4 linked regions of the Homo sapiens genome follow. The protein of the gene in region 4 interacts with the protein of the main gene of each other region in a pairwise test. Each region holds a gene or a part of one and is shown on either strand. Other genes may lie near its edges.

Evidence for each region.
Region 1: the proteins of ASGR2 (region 4) and EMP1 interact in binary tests that used the Homo sapiens proteins (3 or more experiments, as listed by UniProt).
Region 2: the proteins of ASGR2 (region 4) and TFRC interact in binary tests that used the Homo sapiens proteins (3 or more experiments, as listed by UniProt).
Region 3: the proteins of ASGR2 (region 4) and SLC35B2 interact in binary tests that used the Homo sapiens proteins (3 or more experiments, as listed by UniProt).

What each region holds. Positions count from the first base shown.
Region 1 is NC_000012.12:13,199,705-13,206,736, forward strand, and holds part of EMP1 (epithelial membrane protein 1), read left to right. Parts: intron 1-7,032.
Region 2 is NC_000003.12:196,051,072-196,058,103, reverse strand, and holds part of TFRC (transferrin receptor protein 1), read left to right. Parts: intron 1-2,802; coding exon 2,803-3,024; intron 3,025-4,545; coding exon 4,546-4,686; intron 4,687-5,919; coding exon 5,920-6,162; 3' UTR 6,163-7,032. UniProt on the Homo sapiens protein: Cellular uptake of iron occurs via receptor-mediated endocytosis of ligand-occupied transferrin receptor into specialized endosomes. Endosomal acidification leads to iron release.
Region 3 is NC_000006.12:44,254,518-44,262,072, forward strand, and holds the start of SLC35B2 (adenosine 3'-phospho 5'-phosphosulfate transporter 1), read right to left. Parts: upstream 3,012-7,555; 5' UTR 2,894-3,011; coding exon 2,883-2,893; intron 2,772-2,882; exon of another isoform or gene 2,665-2,771; intron 2,362-2,664; coding exon 2,168-2,361; intron 1,980-2,167; coding exon 1,825-1,979; exon of another isoform or gene 1,821-1,824; intron 1,128-1,820; coding exon 189-1,127; 3' UTR 1-188. Other genes in the region: NFKBIE (NF-kappa-B inhibitor epsilon), read right to left, coding at 4,702-4,767, 5,526-5,765, 5,934-6,022, 7,109-7,331. UniProt on the Homo sapiens protein: Probably functions as a 3'-phosphoadenylyl sulfate:adenosine 3',5'-bisphosphate antiporter at the Golgi membranes.
Region 4 is NC_000017.11:7,100,809-7,104,837, forward strand, and holds the end of ASGR2 (asialoglycoprotein receptor 2), read right to left. Parts: intron 1,389-4,029; coding exon 1,282-1,388; intron 933-1,281; coding exon 767-932; 3' UTR 518-766; downstream 1-517. UniProt on the Homo sapiens protein: Mediates the endocytosis of plasma glycoproteins to which the terminal sialic acid residue on their complex carbohydrate moieties has been removed. The receptor recognizes terminal galactose and N-acetylgalactosamine units.

The sequences.
Region 1 (7,032 bases), on a different chromosome or scaffold from region 4:
TCAGTGTGTACCTCCACACTCATTCCCCTTAGCAGGCCAACTCTAATTTTATTAAAGTTCCTTAAATCAAGCAAAATCAACTTCCTTATAACTTCCTGATTCTGCTGGCCTGAAACAACTCAGAAAATATCTATTCTGGTTTTGTTGTTGCTCCACCCAATGATTCTCATCCTCTAAACACTTAACGCCTATTTAATATTTAATGAATACAACTTGATGGATCTACATTGCATTATCTTTTCTTCTTCTTCTTCTTCTTCTTTTTTTTTTTTTTTTTGCCTAAGGCTCAGAAGGGCAGGGAGCATTTTTGAAGTTTGGAATTATGTACATAGTCAATCATACTCACGGGGTTTTTGATTTGGAGGTATTTAATTTTCTAAATGCATGAATATGGTTCCTTCTTTAACCTCCCACATGTATGTACATAGCTGCCTAACACAAAAGCTCAGGCCTATTTGGGACTCTCAGATGTACATACTCGGAGGGACACACCCAGTGTTGCTACCTACTAGGTCATGGTTAGATCAATCCAATACCAGGACACAGGCTTCTAGCTAGGCCTTTTGGGGATTGTCCCATAATTTGGTCCATAGTTCATGTAGCCCACACCTATACATTGTCACCACCCATCATAGTAATTACGGGAACAGGCTGCCCATCAAATGTAGCCTCCTTGTAATTGCTGGCCAGCAATCTGGGTATCAGCCCCTTGAGAAGAGCTCCTAACCCTTAACCAGCGTAGAACGGGAATTTTCTCACCATAAGCTTCCCTTTTCTAATACTCTTCCCAGATCCGCCCAGGTGATCTTGAATTTCTGGACTGCACTTGCTATTCAGTAATCAAGGAAGCCCAAATATGGTTCCAGTTAGGGGTTTACTTGAATCTTCAGCACCCAGCCCCGACATACACACGTCCTGAGACTGCTCTTTGCAACAATTCAGTCCCTGGTGTCCTGCCTGGGTAAAACCATTTCCTTCAATTTACCTGGGAGATTCACTGATACTAAAGCAGAAAGATGAAAGCACAAACACCTGTGGTGATTGCTGCTTCTCTCTTCCTTTTTAACAAAATGTTTGGGTCAAGGTTTTCTTTTGTGTTGTGGAGATGGCATTTCCCTGGAACTGCAATGGAATCCTCTGCTGTTGGTGCGCTTGGACTTACGTGGCTGTGACAGTTTTTCTATTTGCTGAGCCTGTTTCATGAATTGTTTCTTCAAACCGGGTAGTTAAACTAGAGAGCCCTTTCAGCACAGGTTGAAAGCGTGGCAAGAATCCTGGAGCAGATGTAAGACAGCTGACTAGGAAGACAGAGGGGCAGTGGTGTTATCTTGACGCTGCCATGTAACCACAGGCGAGACACTTGTCTTCTTGCTTTCGGAAGTTGAACTTGGTGGTTCTTTCAGACCCCTTATGGCTCTGAGATTCTAAGATTCACCCAGGCGTGGTAATCCCAGCTACTTGGGAGACTGAGGTGGGAGGATCACTTGAACCTAGGAGTTTGAGACCAGTCTGGGCAACATAGTGAGACCCTGTCTCTAAAAGAAGAATTTTAAAAAGCAGGGTGTGGTAGTGCATGCCTGTAGTCCCAGCTACTTGGGAAGCTGAGGCAGGAGGATTGATTGAGCCCCAGGGCTTTGAGGCTGTAGTCAGCTATGATTGTACCATTGCACTCCAGCCTGAGCAATGAAACAACACCCTGTCTCAAAAAAAACAAAAACAAAACAAACCAACAAACAAAAACACCAAAAAAACGAAAAACAAAAAAATTAAGATCCTACCATTTCTATTTTGAGATATCCCTTGCGCTGATGCTAGCAGCTGGCTTAATCTGTAAAAATTGATAGAAAAGTGAAATAGGGCAACGTGTGGCATTGAAAAGGGCATTTTGCAGAGGATTCTCGTCTCCTGGGTGCCTTGAGGACCCACGGAGCCTCCTCTGCCCCATCCACTCACAGATTCTTTAGGTATGGTGTTCCCCGGACTTACCCTCAGCCATGAGCATTCACTCGGCACTAGGAATAAAAGAAAGAGGTTTGAGTAATTAAACGTAAAGGGTGCCAGCTCAGATGAGGAGGGCAGGCTGAGTCTGTGAAGACATTGACAACAGCAAAGCATTCACCAGGAACAGAATCAGGCTCAGGGAGAAACTGAGCTGGCTCTGGGAAAGAAACTCCACCCTCTTCTTGAGGAGGGAGACCCTGCAGCATGAAGGTGTGGTGTACAGGTGTGGACAGGAGCAAATGAGGAACAGTTTGAGAGGAGGAAGAGGAAGGTGCAACTAGGACAGGAGGGAGGGAGGGAGGGCAAGTGGGATGCTGTTTCCCAGGCCTGTGTGTTGAGGGAGGAGGCAGGCAGAAAGACCTAGAAGCAGGAGAAAAAGCTAAGTGGATAGAGAAAGACAGAAAGGGGGCAAAAGAGCAAGGGAGAAGTGATGAGGATGTTTCCCCTTCCATCCTTCCACTCTTGTTTGGGGACCACCCACCCTCAATGTTTCAAGGCAGTCCTTCGGTCAAAATTCGATTCTTTGTCCCCTGTGAAGAATCTTTTGTCGCATTGGCTACTTCTTGTTTTTTCAGGATGGTTGACACCTCTTTGGTATCATTTTAGTTTCCACTACATGTGCCCACCAGGCTGGAACCTCTTCAATGTTTCTCCTCTTCCAGGTCAGATCAGAGCTGAGAGCAAAACGGGGTTCTTGATCCTTAGACTTCTCATTTCAAAGAATCAAAGACCCTTCCCCAGGACGCTGGAGAAGGGGAGTTGGACAGAGGTTTGCAACCCTGAAACAACTAGTTTGGGGCAAGGCAGTGTGTTCACATTGATCTCAGAGAAAGCTCTGAAGCTGAGACCTGGAGCTTCCCTTTATTGAAAGATAGTCTCCATGTCTGGGTGGGGTGGGGACTCCTGTGCTGAGGGTTAGAAGGTTGCTCGGAGTTTGCAGGGGGATATTGTTCGGGTCTGTTTTGGCCAGGCAGGCTGGCTCTGCTGGGTGGGACTTCTCAGCAAAACGACAGGGAGAAGCAGTGGCCTCGGAAGACCCTGTGTTTTTATAATTGGCACAGTTTTAAGGGGTATATGCTGACTCTCTGATTAACTCAGAGAGGGTAGGAGGAAAAGAGAGAACAGTAGATCTGGTAGAAGTTCTAGAACTTCCACCAAACCCTAAGCCAAGAGACAGGAGAGAAAAAATCATGCCAGGTGGAAGAGCCCTGCCTGGAAGGTGCGAAATGGCTTCAGTTCTGATTCAATTCCATTTCTCCTTTGGGGACGTGCATTTCCTTCTTATCAAGGGGTTGGACTGAATGACCTCAATGCCTCTCAACCTCTAAAGAACGAATTGAAATGAAGCCCTGAGCCCACCTGATGGGTCTGGGGTGTCTCTAGGCGAGGGGCCTCCCCTCCCAGCTTGCCGCCTTCCAGGAGGCTGCAGCTTTGCTGGTTGAAGCATGTTGCCGCCATCTACTGTTGGTCCCACCCAAGCGCCGCTGGGGCCGGGCCACACCTAGGTTTTCTTCCCAAACCCCTAGTTATTATCTTGGCAACCTCTCCCTTGAAGACATTCTGGCTGCCAGAACACTCGTTTGTCAAAAGCAGAAGGCAACTCACGCTTCCGTCCTCGCCCAGGGAACATCGCCTGATCCCTTGACCAGCTGCAGTCTGGGGGAGTAGGCTGGGCCCCAACTTCACAGCCCAGGTCTGGCCTCAGTCTTTGCAGATGTTGCCCAGATCCACCCCTCCCCTGGACACGAAGGAGGACAAGCGGAAATAAGAGAGAGAGGTTATTCTTCTTGGGAGCATTTGCAAAAACAATATTCATGCCACTTGTTTGCCTTTAGCATAATTGTTGGCCCTCAGGCTCTGCCAGAGAAGCATAAAGCCCATTTCCCCGGCCCGAGCCTCTCATTTTACACAGAGGAAGAGACCAACCAACCAGGAACTGTGTGGCCCCCACTCTGTGCCTGGCACAGGCCTTCAGCCCTCATGCTAATCCTGTGAGGTCTACAGGTCACAGTTCAGACATGGTGGAGCCAGGATTGGAGCTGAGAATCCCTGCTCTGTGCTACTTTGAACTCTGTGCCTGTAGGAGCCACTGACCAGAGAGGTTATGTGATTTTTCTAAAGTCAGAAGTTGGTCAGGGGCAGATTTATTATAAGAATCTGGTTCTCCAATAGGTTCTCTCTCTCTCATACAGTGTGCTTGCCCCACTCCCAACCCACACCTTGGCTCCTCACCCCTGACTATGTGAGACTCTGTGCTAGTCTACACAGCACCAGACCAACACGACTTGCTGTATAATAACCCCCATTTATAATAGCCTGCATTTGGAAGATGAAAAAAATAATTGTTTTCCCTGCAGCATGTAGGTCCCTGTTACTTTTGCTGCTTGATTGACGATGTTTCTCCTGGTTGTAAAAACTGCCCTGTATTTTCCAACATCAAGTCCTACCTGAGGTTCCTTCCTTCCACACCAAACATGAGCTATGCAGAGGCCGGAGGAAATGGCCCCTGAGAATCCTTTTTCTCCCCATGTTTCCCACGGAGAAATTAATCCCCTGCTTTCCCACCCCTGCATAAACACAATATTGAGAATGGAAAAGTACACTTGATATAAAACAACAATAACAGTGGCCAGAGAGGCTCATCCAAGGTCTCATCCACTCAGCCTGCCTTTAATCCCAGTCTTTTCCTCCTCCAGACACATCCTCTCCGGCTGCCCCCAGAAGGGAGTGCTTCCTTTTCTGCTTTTGTGTTACATGCGCATCCATTTTGCCAACCAAATGATCCTTCATGGGAAACAAACACATCAAAACCAAACCAACAAAAGCAAAATGCTCCCGACTTGCGCAGAGGACAGAAAGGCTTTCGTGCCACCCTGCGTGGTGTCTTAGGAAGGAGAGGCAGCTGCGGAGTTTCAGGTGTCACGCTGAGGAAGGTGGTGTGGGGTCGTCTGACTCATGGGGGTCAGTTGACCAGAAGCGGCTACGCCTCTCTCTCTCCTCGTGCTTTGGAGGAAGCACCACGTCTTTGGTCAGATGCTGTGAGAAAGCTTTCTCCAAAGTTTACAGTTATCCAGAAAGAGATCAGAATCTCACTGTCAGAAAAACACTGGCCAGCAAAAAGACAGGGAGTGTCTAGCAGTAATCTCAGGACTGTGTTATGACTTGACTGAGATTTTGAGATCTAAGGTGAAGGCCTCTGGTGAATCTTCTGATAACCTGGTAGTTCTGCTGTGAAGACAACCATGCTAGAAAGAGGAAGAATTAGTCTAGTCAGGTAATCTCACCGGCAGAATTAAAAGTCATGGTGGTCGTTGCAAAGAGCACACTCGGACGTATTGTCAGAAAAATCTTTCTAATCGGGGAAGGGATCCTGGTAGGTAGTGAGCTCTCCATGACTGGAGGAGGTTAAGCATGATTCAGATAGTTCTTTGGTCAGATTTGTAGATGACTTTCTTGAATTGAAAAGGAATTTTAAAGACCTCCCTCTTCAGTCCTGAGATTCTATAATTCAAAGAAGTAGAGAGAAAGATTAAATCTGCAGACAAACTAGTGTTTAGAAATTTAAGACATTTTCTTTGCATTCACTTATTTCCTCTTGAACAAAAGGCAACACACACATATATACCCTTGTATATTCAAATGCACTCAGGAAACAGTCACATATTTACATAGGTATTTATATAGAAATATATAACAAAGTTTGCATACAATAAGATGCTCAATACATAGTTGTAGTAAAGTATTAAGCAATTTCTGAAAAATAATAAAGGACTAAAGTCTATGTATGTTAAAAAAAAAAGGAAATATTTTCCCTCTATAATTCTGTGTTTATTATGAAGTCTTCAGTCATTTTGACATTGATTATTTTTCCATGGGGAAGAAAATATGGCCATCCTTAATTCATTTATTTGTTCATTGAACAGATATTTATTTGGTACCTGTCACAGGCAAGACTCTCCCTTCAGGGACTTAAAATCTTAGGGCTGTCATCAGTGGTTTTAATAAAAAGCTATGTGAGGGCAATAGAAGAAGAGAGAAAAGAAAACTGCTCCTAACCTATGGATCTGGGAAGGCTTTTTAGAAGAGGTAGGATTTTAGCTTGGTTGAAAAGAATTTGATAGACTGTCACTGAAAGAAGAATACAAAAGCAGAGCTTTTATTTTTGGAAATCCAAGTCCTGGGATTGCAAGGGCTGGCTTGAGGTGCGTGGAGCCTCTTTCCTGCTGATTGGTGGTGGTTAGAGGTGGGGGTTTGGAGGTTCTTGAGCAGGGGAGTGCCATGGTCAGATAACCCAGTAGCAGGGTAGAAGATATGTTAGAGGGGAGTTGTTCAGAGACAGGGTCATGGGTGAGGCTGATGCCATGGTCAGGCTAGGACCTGAACTGGACAGTAGCAATGGGAATAGAACATAAGGAAGGATGTGAGATAAGTAATGGAGGTAGAAACTCAGGGTAGGACTGTGATGTTTTGGGCAACAAAAGTGGAATGAGGGGAAGGGAAGATAGGACATTTGGCAGTGGTCATTACTGCTCTTTTCTCCCCAGAAAAATCCTGGCCTTTCTTAAGCTGCCAGGGAAATGCCAGCCAGATCCATACCCTGCTTCTCAGAAAGCTCTCTCGTGCCCTTTTGTAGAGAAGGTCTCCATGATGCCTTTCATTCTGGGAGAATCTCACCCACTCTCAAATGAATCATGGAAATTTGAGCCCTGAGGGCCTCCCCCAGTGTTTGCATCGTCTTCAGCTCCTGATTTCTGAGCATGCTCCCCTCCCACCCCTCAGCTAGGGCTAATTCTTCAGTGACTCAAGCCCCAGGATTTTGACCACTTCCTTCACTGGGGAAGTGGGTTTTTGGTTGCTCTATTCTATTGTGTTGCTCCCAGTTATTGTGTTTTAGGTCACTCTTAAAGAATTGCTGCTGCCGCCAGGCCCCATGGCAGTTCAGTGAACACACAGACTTCTGGACAGGAAGAAGTTATCTGACTCCTAGGTTAGCAATCAGGGAACCAAATTATGCACCTCTAAACTTCCCTT
Region 2 (7,032 bases), on a different chromosome or scaffold from region 4:
GGTAATTATTCTTGGCTACCAAGATCAATAACAAGGATGACACCAGTCCAAGGTTGACAGGCAGTTGCTAGGCAGATTTTCTCACGAGAGAAGTTTTTTGGTGCAAGGTTGCAGTGGCCTTTGTGTAAGGTTGTAGTTTTTGTAAAAAGGAAAAAAAAAAACCCTTAATCCTTGTTATCAGACATACAAGGGTGAGACCCTTCTCTTCAGGGTTGCATTTTTGTTAACACTAGTGACTCCATTTTGATTTTGACAACTTGCACATATCTTAGTTGTTGGGTTTTTTTTGTTTGTTTTTTGTTTTGTTTTTTTTTTTTTTTTTGACAATGGTGACTTGCTCTGTCACCCAGGCTGGGGTGCAGTGGCCCGATCATGGCTCACTGCAGCCTCAAGCAGTCCTCCCCCTTCAGCCTCCAAACTGTTTGGATTATAGGCAAGAGCTACTTACTACACCTGGCCATGGATCTTCTTGTGTCAACTTTGAGACCAAATTTACTGCAGTGCTTAAAATGTTTTAAGAAGTTATACACATGTGCTGGATGTGGTAGCTCACGCCTGTAATCCTGTAGCAGGACAAGCCGCAGACAAATCCCCTCAGACACCGAGTTAAAGAAGGAAGGGCTTTATTTGGCTGGGAGCTTTGGCAAGACTCACGTCTCCAAAAACTGAGCTCCCCGAGTGAGCAATTCCTGACCTTTTTAAGGGCTTACAACTAAGGGAGTCTGCGTGAGAGGGTCGTGATCAATTGGGCAAGCAGGGGGTACGTGACTGGGGGTTGCATGCACCGGTAATTAGAACAGAACAGAACAGGACGGGATTTTCACAGTGCTTTTCTATACAATGTCTGGAATCTATAGATAACATAACTGGTTAGGTCAGGGCTCGATCTTTAACCAGGACCAGGGTGCGGCAGCGCTGGGCTGTCCACCTCTGCCTTTTAGTTTTTACTTCTTCTTTCTTTGGAGGCAGAAATTGGGCATAAGACAATATGAGGGGTGGTCTCCTCCCTTAATCCCAGCACTTTGGGAGGCCAAGGAAGGCGGATTACGAAGTCAGGAGTTTGAGACTAGCCTGACCAAAATGGTGAAACCCCGTCTCTGCTAAAAATACAAAAATTAGTCGGACATAGTGGCGTGTGCCTGTAACCCCAGCTACTCAGGAGGCTGAGGCAGGAGAATCGCTTGAACCTGGGAGGCAGAGGTTGCAGTGAGCTGAGATGGAGCCACTGCACTGCAGCTTGGGTGACAGAGCAAGACCCTGTCTCAAAAAAAAAAGTTATACACATGTAATTATTGCATGTTCCTTCATTATTAGTTTTAACATAGACTTGTTAATCTCAATTAGCTTAATTAGCATTTGAGTTTATTGCTAAAACTTCTTTATGAGTTTTAATAATGAGGCTTGGCCGAGTGTGGTGGGTCATACCTGTAATCCCAGCATTTGGGAGGCCAAGGCGGGTAGATCACTTGAGGTCAGGAGTTCAAGACCAGCCTGGCCAACATGGTTAAACCCCATCTCTACTAAAAATACAAAAAAATTAGCTGGGCATGGTGGCACATGCCTATAATCCCAGCTGCTCAGGAGGCTGAGGTGGAAGAATCGCTTGAACCCAGGGGGCAGAGGTTGCAGTGAGCCGAGATCGTGCCATTGCACTCTAGCCTGGGCAACAGAGCAAGATCGTCTAACAACAACAAAAAAAAAACCAAGGCTGAATTTCTTGAGTGATTGAGCAGTGGCTATCTATTGGACAGTCCAGCTGAACAGTATTTTCCTCAGGCTGGGTGCAGTAACTCACACCTATAATTCCGGCACATTGGGTGGCTGAGGTGGGCAGATCACTTGAGGCCAGGAGTGAGACCAGCCTGGGTAACGTGCCTAGACTATATCTCTACAAAAAATTTTTTAAATTAAGTGGCCCAGTGGCCAGCTGTAGTCCCAACTCCTTGGGAGGCTGAGGCAGGGGGGTCACTTGAGCTAGGAGCTTAAGGCTGTGGGGAGCCATGATTGCATCACCACGCTCCAGCCTGGGTGACAGAGTGACCTCGTCTCAAGGCTGCAGGGAGCCATGATTGCATCACTGCACTCCAGCCTGGGTGACAGAGAGAGGCCTCGTCTCAAGGCTGCGGGGAGCTGTGATTGCATCACTGCACTCTAGCCTGGGTGACAGAGTGACCTCGTCTCAAGGCTAGAGGGAGCCATGATTGCATCACTGCACTCCAGCCTGGGTGACAGAGAGAGACCTCGTCTCAAGGCTGCAGGGAGTCATGATTGCATCGCTGCACTCTAGCCTGGGTGACAGAGACCTTGTCTCAAGGCTGCGGGGAGTCATGATTGCATTGCTGCACTCTAGCCTGGGTGACAGAGAGACCTTGTCTCAAGGCTGTGGGGAGTCGTGATTGCATCACTGCACTCTAGCCTGGGTGACAGAGAGACCTCGTCTCAAGGTATGTTTCATGTATCTTCTCTTTTTTCATTGATAAAGGCCCAAACTTCCCAGAGAGAAAAACATACAGCCTTAAGGAATTTGGCTAGAAGTCTATTCAGGGCATATGATACGATAGAACAGGGATTCTGTAGAACCTGGAAGAAAGTAGTCACTCTAGGAGTAGGTTAGCTTGAGAGAAGTAGCAAGAATGTACTTAAAGCAGCAGATAATGAGATAGAATTGGGGTAAATTGCGGTAGGAATATGTTAGAAGCAAGGGTGGAACTGTCGTCACTGTTACCTCGATGGCGAAGCCAGAATGTGAGGCTCTTGCTCTTAGAACTCACGTGAGTACCATAGCCTCGCGTTGTCTTGCAGGACACAGATTATCCTTATTTGGGTACCACCATGGACACCTATAAGGAACTGATTGAGAGGATTCCTGAGTTGAACAAAGTGGCACGAGCAGCTGCAGAGGTCGCTGGTCAGTTCGTGATTAAACTAACCCATGATGTTGAATTGAACCTGGACTATGAGAGGTACAACAGCCAACTGCTTTCATTTGTGAGGGATCTGAACCAATACAGAGCAGACATAAAGGTGAGCACTGATTCCAATTACGTTTTTATTTTGCTGAATGTCAAGTATTTTGAAATGTGATGTGTTCCTGTGTGTTCCTGTTGGAAGGGTGATTGTAGCCATAGTACATTTTAAAGTGAACTGAGGTATAATTGTATGTAGAATTGGTAACTTGTTTGAGAGAAGTCGGGAGGCTGTGGATTAGAGACCTAGGACAGAGCTCAGCAGGTGTTTCAGAATCCAGAGCAGTGTCAGGTTTTCTGTCACTCATGTCTCCCAGGCAGCCCGTCAGTAGGACACGGAATATGAAGATCTCAGCAAGGAGTTGGGCTGTGTGCCTCTCGGGCGTGACCCGGATGGAAAGACAGCACAGCTAGCAGGATTCCATCTCGTAGTGATCTGCGCATCTAAAAGTCAAATATTCTATTAAACGAAACTGATAAGCAGGGTGAGGTGGTGCATACCCGTAGCCCCAGCTACTTCTGCTGAGGCAGGAGGATTGCTGGAGTCCAGCCCAGGCAACATAGCAAAATCCCATCTCTAAATAAATTAATAAAACTAATATTAAAGTAGCTTCCAGATTGTTTTATGGTACTAGGAGTTGATTTTTAACAGATCTCTTAATTGAAGTAAATCACTGACAACCGAATCTTTTTATATCTTTTTTATTTTTATTTTTATTTTATTTTTTTTGAGAGATGAAGTCTCGCTCTTGTCCCCCAGGCTGGAATGCAATGACATGATCTCGGCTCACTGCAACCTCCACCTCCCGGCTTTAAGCGATTCTCCTGCCTCGGCTCCCCAGGTAGCTGGGATTACAGGCGTGTGCCACCATGCCCAGATAGTTTTTGTGTTTTTAGTAGAAGCCGGGGTTTTACCATGTTGGCCAGGCTGAAGTGCAGTGGCGAGATCTCGGCTCACTGTAAGATGCGCCTCCCGGGTTCACGCCATTCTCCTGCCTAAGCCTCCCGAGTAGCTGGGACTACAGGTGCCGGCCACCACGCCCGGCTAATTTTTTGTATTTTTAGTAGAGCCGGGGTTTTACCATGTTGGCCAGGCTGGTCTTGAACTCCTGACCTCAGGTGATCCACCCACCTCGGCCTCCCAAAGTGCTGGGATCACAGGCATGAGCCACCACGCCCGGCATCTTATGTCTTTCTTGAAACTAATTGTAACTGTTGAAAATGGAACTTACCAGGTGGAAATAACTAAATCCTGAAGTACCTTGAACCAAAATGTTTTCCCCTATAGGGACATTTTCCCCCAAAAGGAGAATTGAACTGGAAACAATATAGTACATAGGATTATATAATTATGTTCAATTTCTTAATGAGAATGGTTTTCTTACATGCTGGGCTCAAATATGAGTGTATATCACAGTCCATAGAGCTTGGAACCCCTGTGCAAGGTGCTTTCGGAGTCTTGAGCTTATCTGCGAGTTCCTTTTATCAGAATCTTACTTAACGCACGTTAAATTAGAAAGGCATACAAAAGAATGTCCTTAGAAATAAAACTTCTCATAGCGAATAATGTCTGTTTCAGGAAATGGGCCTGAGTTTACAGTGGCTGTATTCTGCTCGTGGAGACTTCTTCCGTGCTACTTCCAGACTAACAACAGATTTCGGGAATGCTGAGAAAACAGACAGATTTGTCATGAAGAAACTCAATGATCGTGTCATGAGAGTAAGTGAACTTTTGGGAAAGGAGGAACTAAAGTATGTGTAAAATAACCGATAAATCTTACACTTCTGCAAAGTGGACAAACTCTAGGAGTCTAGAATTCCTTTAAGAAGGGAGCATTAATGGTTTAGCTGTCATTTTCTGTTTCTGCTGTCTAATTCAGAACTTAGTCAAACCTAGTCTTTTTGGAAGAGACTTGCTGTAAAACTTCCATGTATGCTCCAATGGGGAAAAGAATCTGAACACATTTAAAGTTTTCCTTTGTAAAATGAATCAGTTTCCTTTAAAAAAATTTTTTTTTTTTTTGAGACAGAGTTTCACTGTTGTTGCCCAAGCTGGAGTGCAATGGCACGGTCTCGGCTCACTGCACCCTCCACCTCCCAGGTTCAAGTGATTCTCCTGCCTTAGCCTCCCGAGTTGCTGTGATTACAGGTGCCCAACACCACGCCCGGCTCATTTTTTGTATTTTTAGTAGAAACGGAGTTTCACCATGTTAGCCAGGCCGGTCTCGAACTCCCAACCTCAAGTGATCCACCTGCCTTGGCCTCCCAAAGTGCTGGTATTACAAGCGTGAGCCGCTGTGCCTAGCCTCCTTTAGAATTTTAACCTTAGAAGATTAGCATTAGCCTGGTTCTCAGCATTCTTTTTTCCTTACTCTGCTATAGAAAGTCTGATCAGCTGGCTGGGTACAGTGGCTCATGCCTGTAATTCCAGTACTTTGGGAGGCCGAGGCAAGCGGATCACCTGAGGTCAGGAGTTCAAGACCAGCCTGACCAACATGGAGAAACCCCATCTCTACTAAAAATACAAAAATTAGCTGGGCGTGGTGGTGCATGCCTGTAATTCCAGCTGCTCAGGAGGCTGAGGCAGGAGAATTACTTGAACCCGGGAGGTGGAGGTTGCAGTGAGCTGAGATCGCGCCATTGTACTCCAGCCTGGGCAACAAGAGCGAAACTCTGTCTCAACAACAACAAAAAGCCGGGCACGGTGGCTCACACCTGTAATCCCAGCATGAATTGCTTGAACTCGGGAGGTGGAGGGTACCAGTGAGCCGAGATAGCGCTGTTGCACTCCAGTCTGGGCAACAAGAGCGAAACTCTGTGTCAAAAAAAAAAAAAAAAAAAAAAAGTCTGATCGGCATTCTTAAATTTGGGACATTTTACATTTGAAGTGAACTGTTGTTTTACTACAAAAGTCACAGGGCTGTGTAAATTGCCTTGTGTGTTGTTTTCGTAGGTGGAGTATCACTTCCTCTCTCCCTACGTATCTCCAAAAGAGTCTCCTTTCCGACATGTCTTCTGGGGCTCCGGCTCTCACACGCTGCCAGCTTTACTGGAGAACTTGAAACTGCGTAAACAAAATAACGGTGCTTTTAATGAAACGCTGTTCAGAAACCAGTTGGCTCTAGCTACTTGGACTATTCAGGGAGCTGCAAATGCCCTCTCTGGTGACGTTTGGGACATTGACAATGAGTTTTAAATGTGATACCCATAGCTTCCATGAGAACAGCAGGGTAGTCTGGTTTCTAGACTTGTGCTGATCGTGCTAAATTTTCAGTAGGGCTACAAAACCTGATGTTAAAATTCCATCCCATCATCTTGGTACTACTAGATGTCTTTAGGCAGCAGCTTTTAATACAGGGTAGATAACCTGTACTTCAAGTTAAAGTGAATAACCACTTAAAAAATGTCCATGATGGAATATTCCCCTATCTCTAGAATTTTAAGTGCTTTGTAATGGGAACTGCCTCTTTCCTGTTGTTGTTAATGAAAATGTCAGAAACCAGTTATGTGAATGATCTCTCTGAATCCTAAGGGCTGGTCTCTGCTGAAGGTTGTAAGTGGTCGCTTACTTTGAGTGATCCTCCAACTTCATTTGATGCTAAATAGGAGATACCAGGTTGAAAGACCTTCTCCAAATGAGATCTAAGCCTTTCCATAAGGAATGTAGCTGGTTTCCTCATTCCTGAAAGAAACAGTTAACTTTCAGAAGAGATGGGCTTGTTTTCTTGCCAATGAGGTCTGAAATGGAGGTCCTTCTGCTGGATAAAATGAGGTTCAACTGTTGATTGCAGGAATAAGGCCTTAATATGTTAACCTCAGTGTCATTTATGAAAAGAGGGGACCAGAAGCCAAAGACTTAGTATATTTTCTTTTCCTCTGTCCCTTCCCCCATAAGCCTCCATTTAGTTCTTTGTTATTTTTGTTTCTTCCAAAGCACATTGAAAGAGAACCAGTTTCAGGTGTTTAGTTGCAGACTCAGTTTGTCAGACTTTAAAGAATAATATGCTGCCAAATTTTGGCCAAAGTGTTAATCTTAGGGGAGAGCTTTCTGTCCTTTTGGCACTGA
Region 3 (7,555 bases), on a different chromosome or scaffold from region 4:
AAGATGGGTGACTTAAGGCAAAAGGGAAGGCTGCCTCCTGGGCTCCCCAATCCCCTGCTGCAGAGCTGGTCTGTGATACTGAGAAAACACCTGCATTTTGCCCTTTCAGCCAGCTCCCTCAGAGGTTACAGCAGAAGGGGATGGTGGGAGGGTCCTATTTCACTTCACCCCTCAGGCCCTTTCCACCCTCAAACCTTCTGCACAGGAGACTCAACAGGCACAGCCTTCTTTCCCCGTTGCTTTAGACGGCCCCGCGCGTAGACTCTGAGCAGGAGGGCAGCAAAGACCACAGCCACCCCCAGCCCTCCCACCACAGTGACAGTGTGGCCATAGAGAAGGCAGGAAAGAAGGATGGCAAAGGCCTGGCGGAGGGTCATGATGATGGTGAAGACGGCAGCCCCAAACTGCCCAATGGTGTAAAAGATGAAGAGCTGGCCACATGCGGAGCAGATGGAGAGTAGCAGGGCATGGGCAGCAAACTCACTGTGTCGCCCCATGAAGCGGGTTCCCTCCAGTAGGGCCCCCTGTTCTAGCAGTGAGCCCACTGTGAAGAGGCAGGAGAAGAAATTGACCCCAAACATCATCTGCACCGATGACATCTTATAGGCAAACAGGGCATCCTGCCAGTTTGAGGTGAAGCTGTCAAAAGCAATATAACCTGCCAGTAAGATGAGGCCTGAGAGTGTGGTGGCTGGGGAGCTGCGGGGCTCTGGTCCGCTGGATAGCAGAAACATGCTGACCCCAATGGAGATGAGGGTGGCTGTCAGGTACTCCCAGTGTTCGTAGCTGCGCCGAGACACAAGCTTTCCCATCAGCATGACAGGGATCACCTTAGAGGCCTTGGCCAGCACCTGGGTGGGGAAGCTGACGAACTTAAGAGCTTCGTATTGGCACCAGCTGCTAAGCACATTGGACAGGCTGGCAAAGGAGTACCGGTACATGGGTGCCCCATGCCGGGGCTGCTTGCAGAGAACACAGGAGAGGCCAGCCACAATCAGTGCCAGCACTCGGTTCATTAGCACCAGGAACTGCGAGTCCGTAAAGCGCTCACCCGGTGATGTGGCTGTGGCCCCATAGCTGCGGGTCATCACTCTTTCCTGCAGCACACCCCAAGTCAGATAAGACACCTGTTGGGGAAGGTAGAGACAAAGGAGACAATAAGCAAGATAATGAAAAGGTAGACAAAAATTGACCTCTCTCTCTTCAGGATTATGCCTAAGTGATTCAAAGGAAAATATACACTTTTTGGTTCCTCTGTAGAAGTTTCTTCTCCCCTCCTAAGTCTGGATTCACCTTGTAGGGAATCAACTGTGTGTGAAAAACCTATTCAGGGAGGCAAGAACTCTCAGAATTGGGTATCTGTAGTTCAACATGATATTCAAGGTGGAACTAGTACCCACTGCAAAATGCCATGGGGTCAGCATGTTAGCACTCTCTCACATGCAGTACTGGGGGAAGGCTGAATGGCTCCCCCACAATTTTATCAGTGGGTTTACAGTATGTGAGACACCAGTGCAGGAAGGAAGTATAATAACGGCACAGTAGAAATCACAGAGAATAGGGCAAGAGGAGTCCTCTCTTCTGCACTAGACATCTTGAAATAACAGCATGAACTTTCAGTACCAGTGCTGGAGAGGAGAAAAGGAAGAAACAAAAGGGCATTTCCCCCAAACACCTCAAAGATGGAGGTGCAGTGTGCCCCTGGGAGGAGGACACGAAACACACCAGCCAGCAAAGCTCTGGGACTGGTAAAATGGAAACCTTCACAGAATCCCTGCCCACCGGCATCCAACCCAGGAAGAGAGGCTGAGCCCACCTACCCACCTGGAGCCCTGTGGCACAGAAGAGCAGCTTCAGGGCCTGCCACATCGGGGTGGTCTCTGCCGCCTCTGTTCGGGGCGCCAGGGGAACCTCATCAGAGGCCTTGGGCTCATTGCCAAACACACAAGCTTTCACCAGGGGAAAGCAGAGGCCCCTACCTGAAGAAAGCACACAAAGTCAAGCCCCAAATCTTCTCCATAGCACTTCATCTTCCCCAGAGCAGCCAGCCTGCCCTGCTGTCCGGCCTACCGACCTCCCGCCCTCTCCAAGTCATATCCCGTTTGGACTGCTGGCCAAATACCCTCTTTCCCGACCTAGCTCACTTCCCCGCCCTTTCTTCACACACCGGTCTCCAGGTAGTTCTTCCGCCTGAAGTACTGCACCAGGAGGTAGCCAGGTACCATAAAGCTGGCATAGCCAGCAGCATTCACCACAAATCGGAAGAACCATAGCTGGGTCCATGACTCCGGAGGGGCTTCGGGAGTCTCCCCACCTGCCCCTAGGGAGGGGAACGCAGCCAGCACCACCACTGCCCACCATCTGTAAGGAAAGCGGACATAAGGATTAGGGCGCAGCTCCTCATCCCCTCCGCCCTCCAGAGGGGACCACACTGGAGTAGTGCCCGGAGTCTCCTCCCCGCCCCCTCCGCTGCAGCTCCGGCCCGGACAAAGAGCCTCTCTCTCTCTCTCTCTCTCGGGGAGGGGGTGCGCCGGCGCTGGCCAGGCAGAGCTTCCTCCCTCCCCGGGGGCGGATCCGCCCCTCTGGCCACACAGGTCTCCTCTGTTCCCTCCAACGCTAGCCGGCTGCTCAGGTCAGAGGAAGCGCCCCTTCCCCCACACTCCCCTCCACGATCCGGGACGTCAGGGTCCCCAGCCCCTCCGCCCGAAGCTCCCCAAGGAGCACAAAACCAAGCCGCAGCTCCCATCCCCGCTGGCTCCGGGCAGCGATATGCTGGCCGACGGCCGAGCAGCCGGGACCCCACCCGGCCCCCGTGCTGAGGCGCGGCAGTCACGTGGCCCGGGGGCTCGGTCACGTGAGCTCGCTGCTGCCCTAGCCCCCACCTGGCGTCCATGGTCCAGGCCGCGTGGGGTGGAGGGGGAACCGGGGAATGCGAGTCCCCGGGCCGCGCGCCCCCTGCGCTCCCGCCGCCGCCTCCAGGAGCGGCCAGCGAGCCAGCGGCCAGCGGAAGTGCCGCGCTCTTCCCGCCTCCCTCCCCGCGGCCCCCTCCGCCCCTGCCGCGACCACGCAGCGCCCCGGGCCGCCGCCGGACCACAGCGCCCCCGCGCGGCCCGGAGGCAGACGCGGCTTGGGTTCCGGGGACCTGGGCTGCCCCTGGGCGCGGGGAGCCCCAGCCCTGAAGAGGCGCCCGCCCGGCGTGTCCCCTGTGCTTCGTCATCGCCCTTCATAAGCGTCCCAGAGGTCATGGTGACCATTGCCATCTTGTGGACAGGACATTGAGGCTCTGCATCCCAAGCCGCTCCTCTGTGTTAGTTTCCCCGTTTTCTGACAGGATGAAGGTGTCTCCTTGCTTTGTTGGCTGGGTAGTAATTCTGTCCCACTTCCCATGATCTTCGAGGCTCTACATGGCCTCGCCCGCGTTCCTCGCCCACTCACTCGCCCGCTGTGAAGCCCCACTGGCTTGCTCTCAGTTCCTCTAATTCACAGGCTTTCCCCCTAATGCTCTGCCCCCATCCCTTTACTCATCCTTACATCCCAGTTGAGATGATACTCCTCAGGCGAGGGTTCCCGGACCACCCAAAGTATGACCCTCTACCGACTCCATCCTTTTCCTTCCCACTATTCTTTTCCCTTCATAGCACCCACTGCAACTTGGAAAGGCATCTTTATTTGGATGTTTATGCTTTTAACGGCTGTCTCTCTCACTGGATGAGACGCTCCAAGTGGTCAGAGACTGTGCTGGTTTATTGCCCCATGCTCTTCATGCCAGCATAGGGGTGACCTAGCAGGGCCCTCGAAGGTGAGGAACGGGGGGAAAAACGTGGAGTCAGCTCCCTCGTGCCCAGCCTCCCTGGGTTACCCTTATCCCCAGGCTCCTCCAGATGGCAACCCCCAGGGCAGTGGTGAGGGCTCCAGGGCGTGTGTCCTCTCATTCTTCCTCTTGTCCCTCCATCCCTCATCATTTCCACAGCAAGGACAAGGGTCTGTGCTGGACACAGAGAAAGGCCTGGAACTACTGGCCTCTGACCCCACCCAGCAAGGCCCTACCGTGCTCAGGGGACAATTTCCTTCTCTCTGCCTCTACCACAAAGTCACAGGGCAGGCCTGTCTAAAAAGCCCCAATGCACACAGACATGCATGCGCGCAAAACAGCTCTAGAAGGGAAAAACTTTTTTTAACGTCTCTGCCATTTTAGTGTCATGTTACTGAAACTTCCCTTCCCCAGTGGCTCAGTTCAGAGCCTTCTGTGTGAAGTCTTTAAACAACGGTGTTTCAGGGTCCTCAACAGCAATAAGATGGGACACCTCTCAGGGTTCTGCTTGCTCCTATTTCAGTCTCTTCTCACTCAGGAGAGTCCATGCTTCCTACTGGTTGGCAGTTTCAGGCTGACCCAACATGGGTAAAACAAGAGCACCTGCCATTTTCAAGAGAGGCAAACAGGCTTCACCCAGGATACCTGGGGCTTTGGGGGTCTTCCAAGAAGCCCTGTCCACCTGGAAAGCTCTTCCTTCCAGACTGGCTCTCTTCCACTTGCAGTCCCTCCTCCTCGGCTCAGGACTGTACTGGCTGGCCCCAGGCTCTGGCCACAGCAGTCCCTAGGGCACCAGAAGAGCACATAGCCTGGGCCCAAACTGCAGCAGTTATGGCTCCGGCTTCCAGATGGAGAGGTGGAGCCCTGAGGATCCCAGACCCTGCCTGGCTTCAGTCGGTACACAGCAGCAGTTTCCCTGAGATCTTCAGGTCATCAAAGGGCAAAAGGACAAGGGACTGAGAAGGAGAATGGAGAGAAGCAAGATCAGAGGACATGGGAAAAGGTGACTTGGGAAAGGGGACCCAGGGAAACCTGTTGGGCCACTCCCTCCCCACCAAATGACAGTTGAAGACCATCAGGGAACAAATCTTCACACGAATCCTCAAAATAGTGGCCCCTCTGGGCTTGGCAGAGCCCTGAGGACTTAGACAAGCCTTCCTTTTCTAAGATAATGCCAGAATATCCGAGTTAGGAGGGACCCTTAGAGGTGATCCAGCCCATGGACCTGGAGTTGTTTGTTGTTGTTGGGGGATGGGGTGGGGGGGCTGCTGGGTACTCGCAGAACATTTAGGTTTCTTTTTTACACTGAACATTTAAAAATAGGAAAGACTGTACAGAAAATCTGAGTTTCACCTCTCAAGAAAGTCCAAGACCAGGAAAAACTGGGCCTACACTCCTGCTTTGTAAGCCTTTGCTGAAGCTGAGTACAGAGACCCTCAGGGATGGCTCTCTGGGTTCTTATAGGCCTCACCACACCATGGTCTCATATCTGGCCAACTTCACTGATTCACTTTAACTGCAGGGTCCCTGTAAGAGTCCAAATTTGGCTCCTTGGACCAACTAAGGAAACAGGCTCAAGTTCCCACAGTTGGTCAGTGGCAGAGTCCTGGTTATACCCCAGGACTCCTGGCTCCCTGGCCCTTTCAGCTAATGACAGAACCTCTCTCTGCTATGGGTGTGCAAGGCCCTGGAGAGCAAAGCATATGCCACTTACTTCCTCAGTCAGGTCCTGGGGCGTCTCATCCTCCACATTCCGCAGCAGGGAGTCAGCACCCGCCTTGCACAGAGTGGATGAGATGCCCATGAGACCCCGGCCAGCTGCCAGGTGCAGGGGTGTGCACCCGTTCAGCATGCGGGCATCTACCTGGGCACCAGCCTGGAGCAGGAACTGTACCAGGCCCCGCTCTTGGGTTTCCACAGCCAGGTGCAGCGCTGTCTTACCACTGGTGCCCTCCTGGGGAGGAATAAGGATGTCAGCCAAGGCCCTCAGAGGCAGTGTGCTGGGCCTGGGCTCTGGATAAGGAAGTGAATGCCACCACTTCTGACTGCTGGGCAGGGGACTTGGGGATGTGTCAGGTGGGGGCAGGCCCTGGGCCGGGCAGTGCTTTGCTGGCTGTCTCACCTGCACATCAATGTCAGCTCCATTCCGAAGCAGCAATTCCATGAGTGGTTGGTTCTTCTGAAGGGTGGCAATGTGGAGACAAGCCAGACCTGGGATGGGGTGAGAGTGAGGGTGAGGGCTGCTGATCTGCATCCACCAACTCCCTCTCTTCTGGGACCTCCCTACCACTCAGCCCCAAGGGACTCACAGCCCACTCAATGTCTCTAATCACAAGACTGTTAAAATGCAAACCCCAAAACCCCCTCAAAAGTCTAAGGGGAAAGGAACTCAAAGTTTCCACCTTTTCAGAGTCATGTTATTGAAACTTTCATGCTTCAGGGGTCAGGCTGCTGAGTGACACCCCCAAAGAACACCCTCCTCCTATACACAAACTACAACACACACACACACACACACACACACACATACAGACACACACACACACACACACACACACACACAACCTGCCTTCAAGCCCAGTCTGAAAGCCACCTTTTCTGAAAAGCCACCTAAGATCCTCATGCCCCCAGCCCTTTCTCAGGGGCCGCTTCCTTCTGTGCTCCCCTGGCCTTTTTGCTCTCCTTTCTAGTCTGGACACTCCCGACCCTTGCTTAGTAATAGAGATTTCGATTCAAATTTACATTCTTCACCTTCCTCAGGGCGCTATTCAGATGTCACTGGCTCCATGAGGCCTTCCCGGACCACCCTATTTAACAATCATATCAACTCTCCTACTCCCCACATTCCTTCCTCTCACTCTGCTCTGCTTTTTACTACAGCACTTACTTCCTTTTAACATATTACATAGTTCACTTCTTACATTTATTGCTCATCTCAATCTTTCTCTATTTTGCACACAGATGCAAGTGTAGCTCCTAGGATAACGTCTGGCACATAGAAAACCCTCAGTACATTTCTGTTGAATGAATGAATCAGGTCATCTAATCTCTATTAAACTAAGTATCTTAAGGGCAAGATTTAGTTTTCTTCTCAGCAGGCAGTAGGTACTGGTTAAATTCGAAATCAAATCATCCATTCATTCATTTGGCAAAGATGTACTGAATATCTATGTGCTTACAGTGGGAGGGGCACCAATGGACAAGCTGGGACCCTCCCTTCCCCAAGAGTGAGGTCCCTATCTCCTATGCCCTCCTCATCCCACAGGCCCTAAGGGCAGTCTTAAAGACTGTCCACACCTTGCCAGTTTTGCAGCTGGAGGTCCAGAGAGTGAGATGTTCCTCTGCCTGGCTCTGGCCGCCCTTCCAGCAGGCAGCGGGCACAGGCCAAGTGCTGGCGCTGGCAGGCCACATGAAGGGCTGTGTCACCATGCCGGTCCTGTAGTGCCCGGCTGGCCCCCTTCAGCACCAGTGCCCGAACTGCGCCCGGTTGGTCCAGATGTACAGCCAGATGGAGTGCTGTCTGGAGGCACAAATAGAGGGTCATGGGGCCACTGCAGCATGCTCCCACCTCTGGGAACATGCTTGGGCTCAAGAATCACCAGCTGCCAGCATCTTCTTTGAAAGCAGCTTATAAAGGCCATAACCTGTTCTTCCAAGGAAATACTACCGAGCCCTTCCCCTGTCACACCCCTCCCCCACCAAGCTCTTGGGATCCCAATTCTGGAAGCAAGGTGAAGAAAGTAG
Region 4 (4,029 bases):
CATCACTGCCCGCGGCCGGTGGGGCAGGCCGGCCACTCCGAGTGCGGGGTCCGCCGAGTCCACGCCCACCCGGAAATCGCGCTGGCCCGCAAGCGCCGCTCCCTCCACACCTCCCTGCAAGCTGAGGGAGCCGGCTCCGGCCTTGGCCAGCCCGGAAAGGGGCTCCCACAGTGCAGCGGCGGGATGAAGGGCTCCTCAAGTGCCGCCAAAGTGGGAGCCCAGGCAGAGGAGGCGCCGAGAGCGAGCGAGGGCTGTGAGGACTGCCAGCACGCTGTCACCTCTCACTGGGAGCCAGGCGGACCCTCCAGCCACAGCCCGGCCGACCCCTTTCCCACCAGTGCCAGCCACTAAGCCTGTCTGCTCCAAGCCCCTTTCCCGTTTCCCTGACCAATGTCCCTCGGGATTAGGGACCAAGGAGCAGCTGTCTAGGATGCGCGCCTTGCGTCTTCCATGCCCTCCCCTCTCCCTCCTCTTTGCATGCTGTTTCTCAGTTCCCAATAACCAGGCCACACAGAGATTCAAGCATTTGTTTCTTCTTTCCTACGCCATTGAAGAGGCTGACGATTATAATAATTACAATGAATTACAGAAGGAGGTGGGATCTCAGTCCTCCAGGGTCAGGGACTCTTAAACTACCTCCTTTCTCTCTTTGCTCAGCTCTTCCCCATACCCCTGTCTCAGTGTTTCTTCCTTTCCTCAAAATCCTCAACAGAGAAGCCAGAGCTGGGCAGGTGTGGGGTATGGGTTAGCCAGAGGTGTGCTGGGGTCAGGCCACCTCGCCGGTGGCATTCCGCCTTTTCTCACACACCCAGCGGTACACCTGCAGGCAGAAGTCATCGTTCCAGCGGCCATCCGGCTGGACTTCAACACAGTCTTCACTTCCACCCAGCTCGTGCCCGTGCCAATTATCTGGCTGAGTGACAGCCCAGTTCCTAAGGAGGCAAGAGAAAACTCGGACTCTGCCACGGTGGTGAGAAAGCGACTTACCCATCCTCCTCCTCTTCATGACCATTTTCCTTGAAGGCCGAGAGTGGAGCTGGGGTGTGCCCTGCTACCCAGTCTGGGGAGAACCCAACCGCAGAGAAAGATGTTTCCTATGCCCAGTCCCAGCAACCCTCACCCCCAGCCCAGAAGAGCACAGCTTTGGAGGGGTTGGAGTCTGGGGAGGAGAGGATTGGGGAATTTGGTCCCTGAGGGACGAGTCAGGGTAGCTTGGAGTGAAAGGCCAGGGGGCTGTCCCCAGAGAAATCTAACAAGGAGATGAGGGAAGAGGCCACTTACTTGTAGTTGTGCCTATAGTCTGTGCCATCCACCCATTTCCAAGAGCCATCACTGTCCGTGAGACCTATCCAGGTATTGAAGGGGTTCGTGTGTTGTACAATGAATTTCTGGAAACACAGGCAAACAGGAAATTTCTAGTCTCTTGTGCCTTTCTCCTCCCTCCATGCAGGCATGGAACTGTGGCCCCTCTCAGCCTTCCCCAGCCTGATCTGCCCTCAGGCTGAAGCACCAGCTCCCGACAAGACTGCTTCCTAGCTTTTTCTTCCGTCACTCTAGCTACTGTTCAGTGCACATTTGCTAGGCTAGACTTCGTGCTGTCTGTGCAAAGATGATCTCATTTAATCCTCAGAAGCTCTCTAAGATGGGCACTGCAGTGACCACATTTTGCAGGGAGTTGCAGAGCCAGAGAGCCAATCCTGTACCTGAGTTAGTGGCCACTGTCCCCTGTTCACAGCCCTGGGCCGGTGTCCCCCTTCATTCCCAGCTTATGGCTCTACCCAAGTTCCGGTTCTCTCCCTGTCTTCTGCCCACAGCCTCGAACTCCTGGGATCCCGACCCTGGTCCCTGCTCTTACTGCCCCCCAGACCCCAGACCCACTGAAGATCTCAGTTTCACTGGCCTCTCAAGTACATTGGCCCCTGGTAGCTCTCGCTTCTATGTGTAGCTGTCATTTCCTGAGATCTGTCAGGCCCGGGAGCTTCTAAGCTTGGACCCACTGCCCAGGGCCCCATTATGATCTAGCTACGTGGAGTCTGACAATCGGGGCAAAATAGGAAGACACCGGGGTGTGAGGAAGCAGCCCGGACAGCCAGTTGCCAGGGGCTTGGGTGAAAGTGGACTTCGAGCCTGCAGATAGCTCCCCGGGACCCACGCGCACCCACACTCCCAGCACGGTAGCCCCTCCAAGTGGCTTTCTCTTACACATACAGCTGTTCCTGGGGACCTAGGTCCCGTGGTTCGGTAGGGTAGGAGGGGAAGGTGTGGTCACCTGGTTTTGTGGAGAAAGTGGAGAGGGATGGATCCGTTGAGCAACGTGCACACTTAACAATTCCCTTTGACAGCCTGGAATTTTCCTTCCAACAGTATTTGAAGGACAATTGCCTAATTCTACTCTCACTCTCTAGAAAAACAACTAAGGTTGCAGTTATTCACCTCTTCCGATTGAGCATCAGAAACTGGGGCATCCCTAAATTCTGGAATCCCACAAATAGGACAAAGTCCCATGCATGAAGGGGCAGCCCTCAGAGGCAGGTGAGGCTGCTCCCCAAATTCAGAGGAGTCAACGGAGTTGGAGAGAAAGTGCCTGGAGACAACACACACTATGTGCTGCTACCTGCTGCCAGCCCTCCCTCCCATCACCACGAGAAACAGAACAACTGAGCAGACTACAAATTAGCAGTATCCAGCCCGCCGTGTTAAAGACTGAGAGGAGGAATCAAATCATGCCAGATGATCAGAGAAGACAGTCCGGGAGAATTCATTCCCCCTTTCCTGGGTGAACCATAGGAAAGAAAGCACTGTGCCCATTCACAAAAGTAATGGAGAAAATCATCATGGAACTTATGCCCCCAAAAAGAAAGAGGAAGATGAGGCAGATGAAAAATGAACTGTGATATCAAAAAGAGAGGTGAAAAATAGACTTTGAAAAGAAGCCTTGTTTCGGAATATGAGGGGATGTTGGAGAACAGTTTCTTTTTTATTATTATTATACTTTAAGTTTTAGGGTACATGTGCACAACGTGCAGGTTTGTTACATATGTATACATGTGCCATGTTGGTGTGCTGCACCCATTAACTCGTCATTTAACATTAGGTATATCTCCTAATGCTCTCCCTCCCCGCTCCCAAGAACAGTTTCTTTACATGCTTCAAAAATTTTAAAAAGAATGACATAAAACATGAAAGAAGATATAAAAAAAAAAGAGAACATGATAAGGAAAGGAAATGAAAAGTTTGAGCTACATACTAAAAAAAAAAGCCCAGGTGTGGTGGCTCACGCCTGTAATCCCAGCACTATGGGAGGCCAAGGCAGGTGAATCACCTGAGATCGGGAATTGGAGACCAGCCTGACCAACACGGAGAAACCTCATCTCCACTAAAAATACAAAATTAGCCAGGCGTGTTGGCGCATGCCTGTAATCCCAGCTACTTGGGAGGCTGAGGCAGGAGAATCGCTTGAACCTGGGAGGCGGAGGTTGTAGTGAGCCAAGATCGTGCCATTGCACTCCAGCCTGGTCAAAAAGAGCAAAACTCTGTCTTAAAAAAAAAAAAAAAAAAAAAAGCCAGGCGTAGTGGCTCATGCCTGTAATCCTAGCACTTTGGGAAGGCCAGGCGGGAGGATCACCTGAGGTCAGGAGTTCAAGACCAGCCTGGCCAACATGGTGAAACCTTGTCTCTACTAAAAATATAAATATTAGCCAGGCATGGTGGCAGGCACCTGTAATCCTAGCTACTCGGGAGACTGAGGCAGGAGAATTGCTTGAACCGGGAGGCAGAGCTTGCAATGAGTCGAGATCGTGTCACTGCACTCCAGCCTGGGCGAAAGAGCAAGTCTCCATTTCAAAAAATAAAAATAAACAAAAAATTTCAGATAAAACACTTGAGGGGCCGGGCGTGGTGGCTCACACCTGTAATCCCAGCACTTCAGGAGGCCAAGGCGGGCGGATCACGAGGTCAGGAGTTCAAGACCAGCCTGACCAACATGGTGAAACCCTGTCTCTACTAAAAAATATAAAAGTTAGCCAGGCA